Regions from separate parts of the Homo sapiens genome. Here region 2 is reported to be linked to region 1. Evidence: microRNA targets listed by miRTarBase, many of them from high-throughput screens and not tested one by one. Region 1 holds a microRNA gene; the other region holds the end of a gene's coding sequence.

What was found. Region 1 holds the annotated microRNA hsa-miR-1180-3p (UUUCCGGCUCGCGUGGGUGUGU, at 1,529-1,550, opposite strand). A microRNA usually pairs through its seed, bases 2 to 8, with sites in the 3' UTR of a target mRNA and lowers its output. Matches are read on the target gene's strand: a 7mer-m8 pairs with bases 2 to 8, a 7mer-A1 pairs with bases 2 to 7 and ends in A, and an 8mer does both.
Region 2: the mRNA of TBX1 is a reported target of hsa-miR-1180-3p. The part of its 3' UTR that is shown has no 7-base or 8-base seed match.

What each region holds. Positions count from the first base shown.
Region 1 is chr17:19,342,985-19,347,253 of GRCh38, forward strand. It overlaps MIR1180 (microRNA 1180), which reads right to left and starts at 1,590; the gene lies at 1,522-1,590. It overlaps B9D1 (B9 domain containing 1), which reads right to left. Exons shown (of 7, transcript NM_015681.6): 6 at 806-873; 7 at 191-477. The coding sequence ends at 335. RefSeq lists a silencer at 2,612-2,906 and an enhancer at 2,612-2,906.
Region 2 is chr22:19,766,680-19,769,679 of GRCh38, reverse strand. It overlaps TBX1 (T-box transcription factor 1), which reads right to left. Exons shown (of 7, transcript NM_001379200.1): 7 at 2,346-3,000. The coding sequence ends at 2,813. Among named protein-coding and RNA genes, the nearest start is that of TBX1, 7.4 kb to the right of the region's middle.

The sequences.
Region 1 (4,269 bases):
AGAACCTGGTTATGTCAAAGCTCCCATCCCACATGCCATCCTGCTGCACGGTCTGGTCTCCTGGCAGCTTCCACGGCACAAGGGGTAGGGACAGGGAGAGCCCTGGAGGTGGGGCCAGGAAAGGCCCAAGAGCCCCCAGCTCCTGTGGGGGAGGGGCTAAACAGGAGAGAAGGCAGCCCCAGGCCTAGGCTCTCTGAAAATGAGACTTTATTATACAAAACTATTCTGTGTGCCCCCAGCTCTGGCCACCAGGCTGCCCCTCAGGCCGATGGGCAGCGGCTGACTTCGGGAAGGCAGCCCTTCATTATCAGAGACTGTGCAGCCTGTGGAGCCTTCACTGGGGGAAGCTCTGGGGTGGGCTGGGCCCCAACACACCCTGTGTATCAGAAGGCCCAGTGTCATAGCCCAGTTTCCTCATGTCCTTGGTCACCACGTTGAAGAGGAGGGTGACAAAGCCCTGAGAACGGACACGGGTCACTGGGGACAGAAGGGCAGCATCAGCCAGGCTGGGCTGGGGCAGAGAGAGACCCAGGTTGATCTGGGAATCTCAGCCTCAGCGTTCTCATCTGTAAAATGGGGACAACAGTGCCTGACCCAAGCCCCTCACTGGGAGGTAAAGGGGCTGCCGGGACAGGCAGACATGACAAACCCTCTGTGCTCCAACCAGGCCCTCATCTGGGAACATTTGTGGGCTAGCTCCTATGTGCCTGGCAGGTCCCCGGCATTCACCCCAACCCTGGGCCCACCCACTCCCAGGCTGTAACCTGTATGGGGGATGGGGGTAAGAGAGGGGAGGGAGCTTTACCTTCCCGGCCTTCACCCTGAGCCACCACCTTGGGGTCTGTGTACTCGGGCCGCCGCCCCATGAACCAGCTGGGAACACAGAAGAACACAGGTGAGCAGGGCCCCACCTGGGCATTCCTGGTCTTGGACGACACTGGATGTGGGCTCTCCTCGGTTCAGAAACCAGCACTCTTGTTCCAACCGCACCCCACCCCCACCAGGAGTCAGGCCCTAAGCAGAGCCTTCCCAGTGGCTGGGCTCCAGCGTGGGGTGTCCCTTGCCGAGGTCACACAGCCTAGCCAGGCCTCATGTGCTCTGCAGCCACGCTGCCTCCGCTGGCCGGTTAGGCTTTTCCATCTCTGGCTTCCATGGGTTTGGTTCACTGGGAATGAGAGCTCAGGAAGATTCTGGGGTGGGGGTGCTACCTGAACCCCCAGAAATCCCAGAAAAGTGACAGCAGCTGAGGTGGGGGAGGGGAGGGGACAGTGTGACCCTCCAGCCTCCCTGGAAGGGGGTCCCACCCCAGAGAGTCTGTGGGGTGGGCAGAAGGGCCAGAACGGCTCCTCAGCCTTACCTCCCACTAGTGTGGGGTCCAGGACATGTCACTTCCCATCTTGGCACCCACCGCAGGCCCTGCCAGGGGCGGCACACAGCCACCAGGCTGAGCATGCGCCCTCCCCAGCCCCAGACCCCAGTTGGGCCAGGCGGGAGGCCAGGAGGCCGGGGGTGTCAGGCCCCGCCGCCGACACACCCACGCGAGCCGGAAACAACCAGGAGCACTATTCCCGGCCGGGTGGGTCCAGCAGCCGCGGGCTTCGCCCCGCCGGGACTCGCGGCCGCGCCTCCTCTGTACCACAGCTCCCAAGGTCCCCCCACGGACACACCCGGCCCCGAGGGTCGCTGGCAACCATGCCGACCCAAAAGCCCACGCACCGCCCTCCCCGCGGCCTCTCCGTCTCTGAGGTGGGCACCAGCGCTCACCTGGGGCGGCTGCAGAGGGGCCCAGGCCAGGGAGGGGCTCTCAGCTGCCGCAGAGTTGGCCTGTGGAGACCACAGCCAGGGAGCACTGCCCACCAGCCCCCAACCCCAAGGAGGGAGCCAGAGAGTGAAAGCCAGCAGGCGCTCCCCAAGGGGAAGGGATGGGCAGCCACAACCCCTGCGCCTCAGTTTCTCCTTTGGGAGAGCAAGACTCTCACAGCACCCACCTCACAAGAGGCTATGTATGAGGACTGGGGCCTGGGAGCATCCCCACTGTGCCCAGCAGATCCCATCCCGGAGCTCACATGGAGCTCCCGTTCCCACTGAATTTCTTTCCTGGGGTCCACCCGGGTGGTCTGCTTAGCTGGCTGGGGTTGGGGAGACAAGACAGGCTGTTCTGGGAGAGCATTCCAGGCAAGGACCTGAGGCAAGGAAGGACCCCTCAGACTGCAGGAACTGAGGTAGATGGGAAGCAAGTGGGCAGAGGCCATGAGGTAGGCAGGGCCCGACCACCGGCCTGGCAGCATTCTGGTTGAAGTTCATTCTGACAGAGACAGGTTCTAGCAGGGGAGGGGTGCAGCCCCAGTTGTGTTTTAGGAACACCGTTTTTCTTGCTATGTGAAGACTAGACTGGAGGGGTGGCAGCAGGCTGAATGACGGCCCCTCAAAGATAGCAGATCCTAGTCCTGGGAAACCGTGCACGTGACCTTATTGAGAAACAGGGTCACGTGCACTTTGCACAGATATGATTAGGCTAAGGATCTTGAGGCGACTATCCAGGTGGACCCTAAAGGCCAGGACTCGAGTGATGAGGCCACAAGCCAAGGAAGGCTGGGGCCACCAGAAACTGAAAGGGCAATAAACAGAGTCTCCCCTAGAGCCTTGGGAGGGAGCACAGCCCTGTGGTGCCTTTTCTGGGCCCAGTGACCTGGATTTTGAACTCTGGCCTTCAGCATACATTTCTGCTGTTTTCAGCTATCACATTTGTGTGTTTTGTTGCAGCAGCCACCGTGGGAAACGAATACAGTGGCCAAGAGTGTTTGGGGCAGGCCCTAGGCCAGCGCTGGAGGATGTGGGGAGAGGCTGGGAGAGGGGTGGGGATGACCGAGGTGTCAGCCTGAGCAAGGAGCCTCCATATCTGGGAAGATTCTGCCAATCAAACTGCCTTCACTAATCAGAACTTTCTCCAGTTTTTGTAATCCAAGCACATACTGCCTTGCCCAGTTGCGAGCCCCTCCACAGGGGCTGTGAAACCCTTTCCTCAGCGAGCTGTCCCCTGGAGGCCCAAAGTCCTCCTTGGAGCTGTGGGCGGTGGAACAGGGTGAATAACCCAGCCTGGATGGCTGTGTGGGTCCCCAGTCTCTTAGGCTTTCCCAACCCACTGATGGGCACTGCCTCGCTGCCTCCCTGACAGCCTGTGGCATGGGGATTGTCACCTCCAGGTGATACTGGCCCAGGTCATCTGGGAAAGAAGTCCTTTGCTACAGGGTGGCCTCCCAGAAGGACTCCTAGGGGCAGTAGGCACACAAATTCTCAGGCTGAGGCCAGCGGAGACCCTGCCCTTCCTCCCCTCCACGGCTCTCAGAGCTCAGTGAAGCATTCTCGGCCCTGGGCGCGATGCTGTCCCTCCACCCAGCAGGGCTCTGGCCTGGTCTCACGCCCAGTACTGGCCAGGCTCGCAGGGGCTGCTTGCCGGCTGCTGCCCTGGAACCCAGGGAGTCCTCCATGTTCCACTTGTGCCTCACTAATCTGCCGGTGGGCGGCAGAGGCTTGCTGCCCAACTGCGCTAATGGTCCTCGAGTCAGAAGGCCAGGGCCCAGCTGGCCCTCTAAGCTCCCACTTGGATGTGAGCAGGGGTAAGAGGCCTTCATGCTGGGGCTGCATCCAGGCATCCCCTGGGCCCTCCCTGCAGGCCCTTGTGTCCTGGCCCCTGCCTGCCTCCCTGATGTCTCCCTCATTCTGCCTGGCTTACCACTTACTGGCCACACTGCCGTCCTGGCCACACCACCGTCCTGGCTTCTCTAGCATGCTAAGCTCACGCTCTCCTCAGCCTGGCAGGCACTGTTCCCTGTGCCTGATGTTCTTCCCCGGCTCTTCCCTCCACACTAAGCCTCTGCGCAAATGTCAGCTCCGGCCAGAGACTCCCACATGTAAAGGCATTTATCATGATTACTGTTCCAAGGTGTCTGACTCATACTGCTATATCCTCTTGTTTCCCACCTTTTAATGTCACATTATGTCATGAGCATTTTTCCCATCTGACAAGAGTTTTTCCTCTGCTCCCTCAGACACAAAGATTTTTCACAGGGCACAGGGTAAAATCGCCCGGCCTTCTGCTGCTGGAACAGGGCTGAAGGGAGCCCCGTGACTCAGCACTCCCAGGGGACCTGTTTCTATTTGTCCTCAGTGGGTGGAGCAGCTTGCAGATCTGAGGAGGCGACCAGGCACAAACTGAGGGGTAGAATGGGACATCCATTCATCCAGTAGATCAGGAGGGGCTGGGGTTAT
Region 2 (3,000 bases), not on the chromosome of region 1:
CAGGCCTTAGGGCAGCTGCCCATGGGAACGTCACCTCCACAGGAACGGTAGTGGCTGGGGCATCAGCCAGACAGCCCCCGCAGCGGGCAGGCAATCACTGGGCACTGGTTGAGGACTGAGCACATGAGGGACGGTGAGCAGCGGCGTGCGCCAGTCTTGCAGACACACAGCCAGCGGAAGCTGCCACCCAGACGCCGGCCTGCGAGCTCTCATTTACAAGAAGTTCTCAGATGCACAAACTCATCTACAAAGGTGGAGGGGAGGAAACCCACACTTCTGGGGGCCACTGCCCAGCGTGGGAGTGCCCTCAGCAGCAACAGCAGCAGTGTGGTGACCCGCGGCCTGTGAGCCACGGAGCACCTGGAATGGGGCCAGTGAGGACCTGAATGTTTAATGAATCCTAGTTCATTAGGACGTGTGGCCGAGTGTGATGGCTCATGCCTGAAAGCCCAGCATTTTGGAAGACCAAGGCAGGCGGGTCACCTGAGGTCAGGAGTTCGAGACCAGCCTGGCCAACATGGTGAAACCCCGTCTCTACTAAAAATACAAAAATTAGCCGGGCATGGTGGTACATTCCTGTAGTCCCAGCTACTCTGAGGCTGAAGCAAAAGAAATCACTTGAACCCAGGAGGCGGAGGTTGCAGTGAGCCGAGATCGCACCACGGCATTCCGGCCTGGGCGACAGAGCGCGACTCAGTCTCAAAAAAAAAAAAAAAAAAAAAAAAAGAATGCGAACAGCCCCGGATGGCCAGCGGCGGCCCTGCTGGACGGCTGGGTGCTCCATCTTGCATGGCCATCCCAACAGGAGGGGCACGGTAACAGGCCAGTTTGCTGCACACTCAGGGTCCTTGCACATTGCTGTGTGTCCCACCCTCATTTACAAACACTGTGTTTGCTCTTTGTTCAGGGGAGGGCTTTTCCTCCCTTTAGCTCTGAACAAAACCAAGGCGGAGGTCTCGAATGGCAGCCCCTCCGCACATCCTGGATGTGGAGTACGGAATGGCTGCCTTCTGACAGCAAGAGAGGGAGGCCCTCTGCAGTGCAAAGCCCCACCCACCGTGGGGCACATGGGTAATGGCTGCCCCAAGTTCACGCAGGTGGGGATCAGGACTTGGGAATGGGCATCCACAGCCGTCCCCCCAAATGCATCTCCAAAGCCGTGCTCACGGAGCCTGGGCAGATGCTGCAGAGGTCCTCACTCTCTGGTGCTAGATGCCCTTTGAGGCTTTGGATGGCCCCTGGAGACCCCCTCCCACCCTAGACTGGCCTCTGGGAATGGTTCCTGCCATTCAATTACTAAGACCCCACTCACTTCACGCCGCCAGAGCAAACATGTATACGAAAAACAGGTCCGCGAGGGTGGACATCTGGAAACTCCTGGCTGTGCCCTCGGAGAGGTGGCACTCAGGCTGCCGCTACCACGTGGGGTGATGAGCCGAGTGGCCTAGAAGGCAGCAGTTGCCACAAACACACTGGGACAGGCACGGGAGGTGGGGGACAGAGCCTCGGCCACGTGCACTTCCCGTTCATCTTGTGTCCAAGTCAGCAGCCTTGGCGCTGACCGGCTGTCAGCCCTTCCTGCTTGCGCTCAGGAAGGGAGGGATCAAAGAGTTCCTCTCGCCCCATCCCTGGTGTTGAGTTAACGGGGAGAGGTCCCTTAGCCACCTGGCCTGGGAAAAATGCTTCATACACAGGTCTCAAGATGACTCATGGCTACTGTCATTGTGCCCCCTGGCCAGGTCACTCCGTAGGGACACTCACAGCAAATAAAGTCACTAAGGAGGGAACATGCGGGCCTGGGCTAGGCCGGCAGGGGAAATGCTAGCAGAACAGTGCTGCCTGTTTTTGTCTTTCCATGACCCCATCCCGGTCAGGGGCTTCTCCCCCTCCCAGCACCGACCGGCAGTGTCTGTCATGACCCTTCTTCCCAGCTTCCATGGAAAAGCACAAGCATCTGTCCCGAAAACAGGCCAGGGCGCAGGCCCAAGTCCCAGAATAGGGACAACTGCAGGTGGGAGGAATTTAAGTAAAAAGGCAGGATGCACACCTGGGCGGTACCACCAGCCCTGGGGAGGTTGGGATGAGACGGGACGGTGGGAAGGTGGGGGGAGTGCACAGGCCTGGCAGGAGGGGCCTCGGAGAGGGGAGGGGCAGTGGGAGCCCCTATGGGGCGGGCAGAGGGCAGGAGGCGTGGCGGACAGGGCGCTGTGGGACCGGGACCGACCTACAGTCGGCAGGGATTGGGGCTGGGGAGGCCCTGAGGGCCCTGAGCTACCCCGGGCTCGCTGTCCCGAAGATTCCCAACGCGATCTAACTGGGCACAAATAAATGGACACGCAGGCGGCTTCCAAAAGAGGCGAAACCGTTTATCAAGTCGGCGCCGGGGCGGTATCTACAGTATCTACAGTATCTACATGTATCTACACCGCCTGCAGGCGGGGCTCTCGGGCTGTCTACACTGCAACTGCCGGCCGGGCCGCGGGCGACGCGGTCTCGGGGAGAACAATAAATATCACTTCCTTCCGCCTCCGACCGGGCGCTTTGGCACTGGCGGGCGGGGACCCCCTTGGCCCTCGGGGCCGGGGAAGGACCCGCGGTGGCTCCAGGGACTGGGGAACCGGATACTTCGATAGCCCAAGGGGCTGGGGGTGGCGAGGGGGCCCCCATGGCTTCGAGGCTGGGGAAGGGGAGAGCCGCGGTGGCCCCTGGGGCTGGGGGAACGTATTCCTTGCTTGCCCTTGGGGCAGGGTGGCCGGGCCCGGCGAACTTCGGGGCTGTGCAGGACCGGGGCGGGAGCGCGACAGGGCCCGTGTTATCTGGGGCAATAGTCGTAGGAGCCGGGCGGCGCGGCTCCGGCCGACGAGTACATGTTGGCGGCCGCGGCAGCTGCGGCAGCGGCGGCGGCGGCCGCGGCGGCTGGACTCACGGGGTGGTGGTGGTGGTGCGGATGCGCGTGCGGGTGGTAGCCGTGGCCACGCAGGCCGGGCAGCGGGTAGGGCG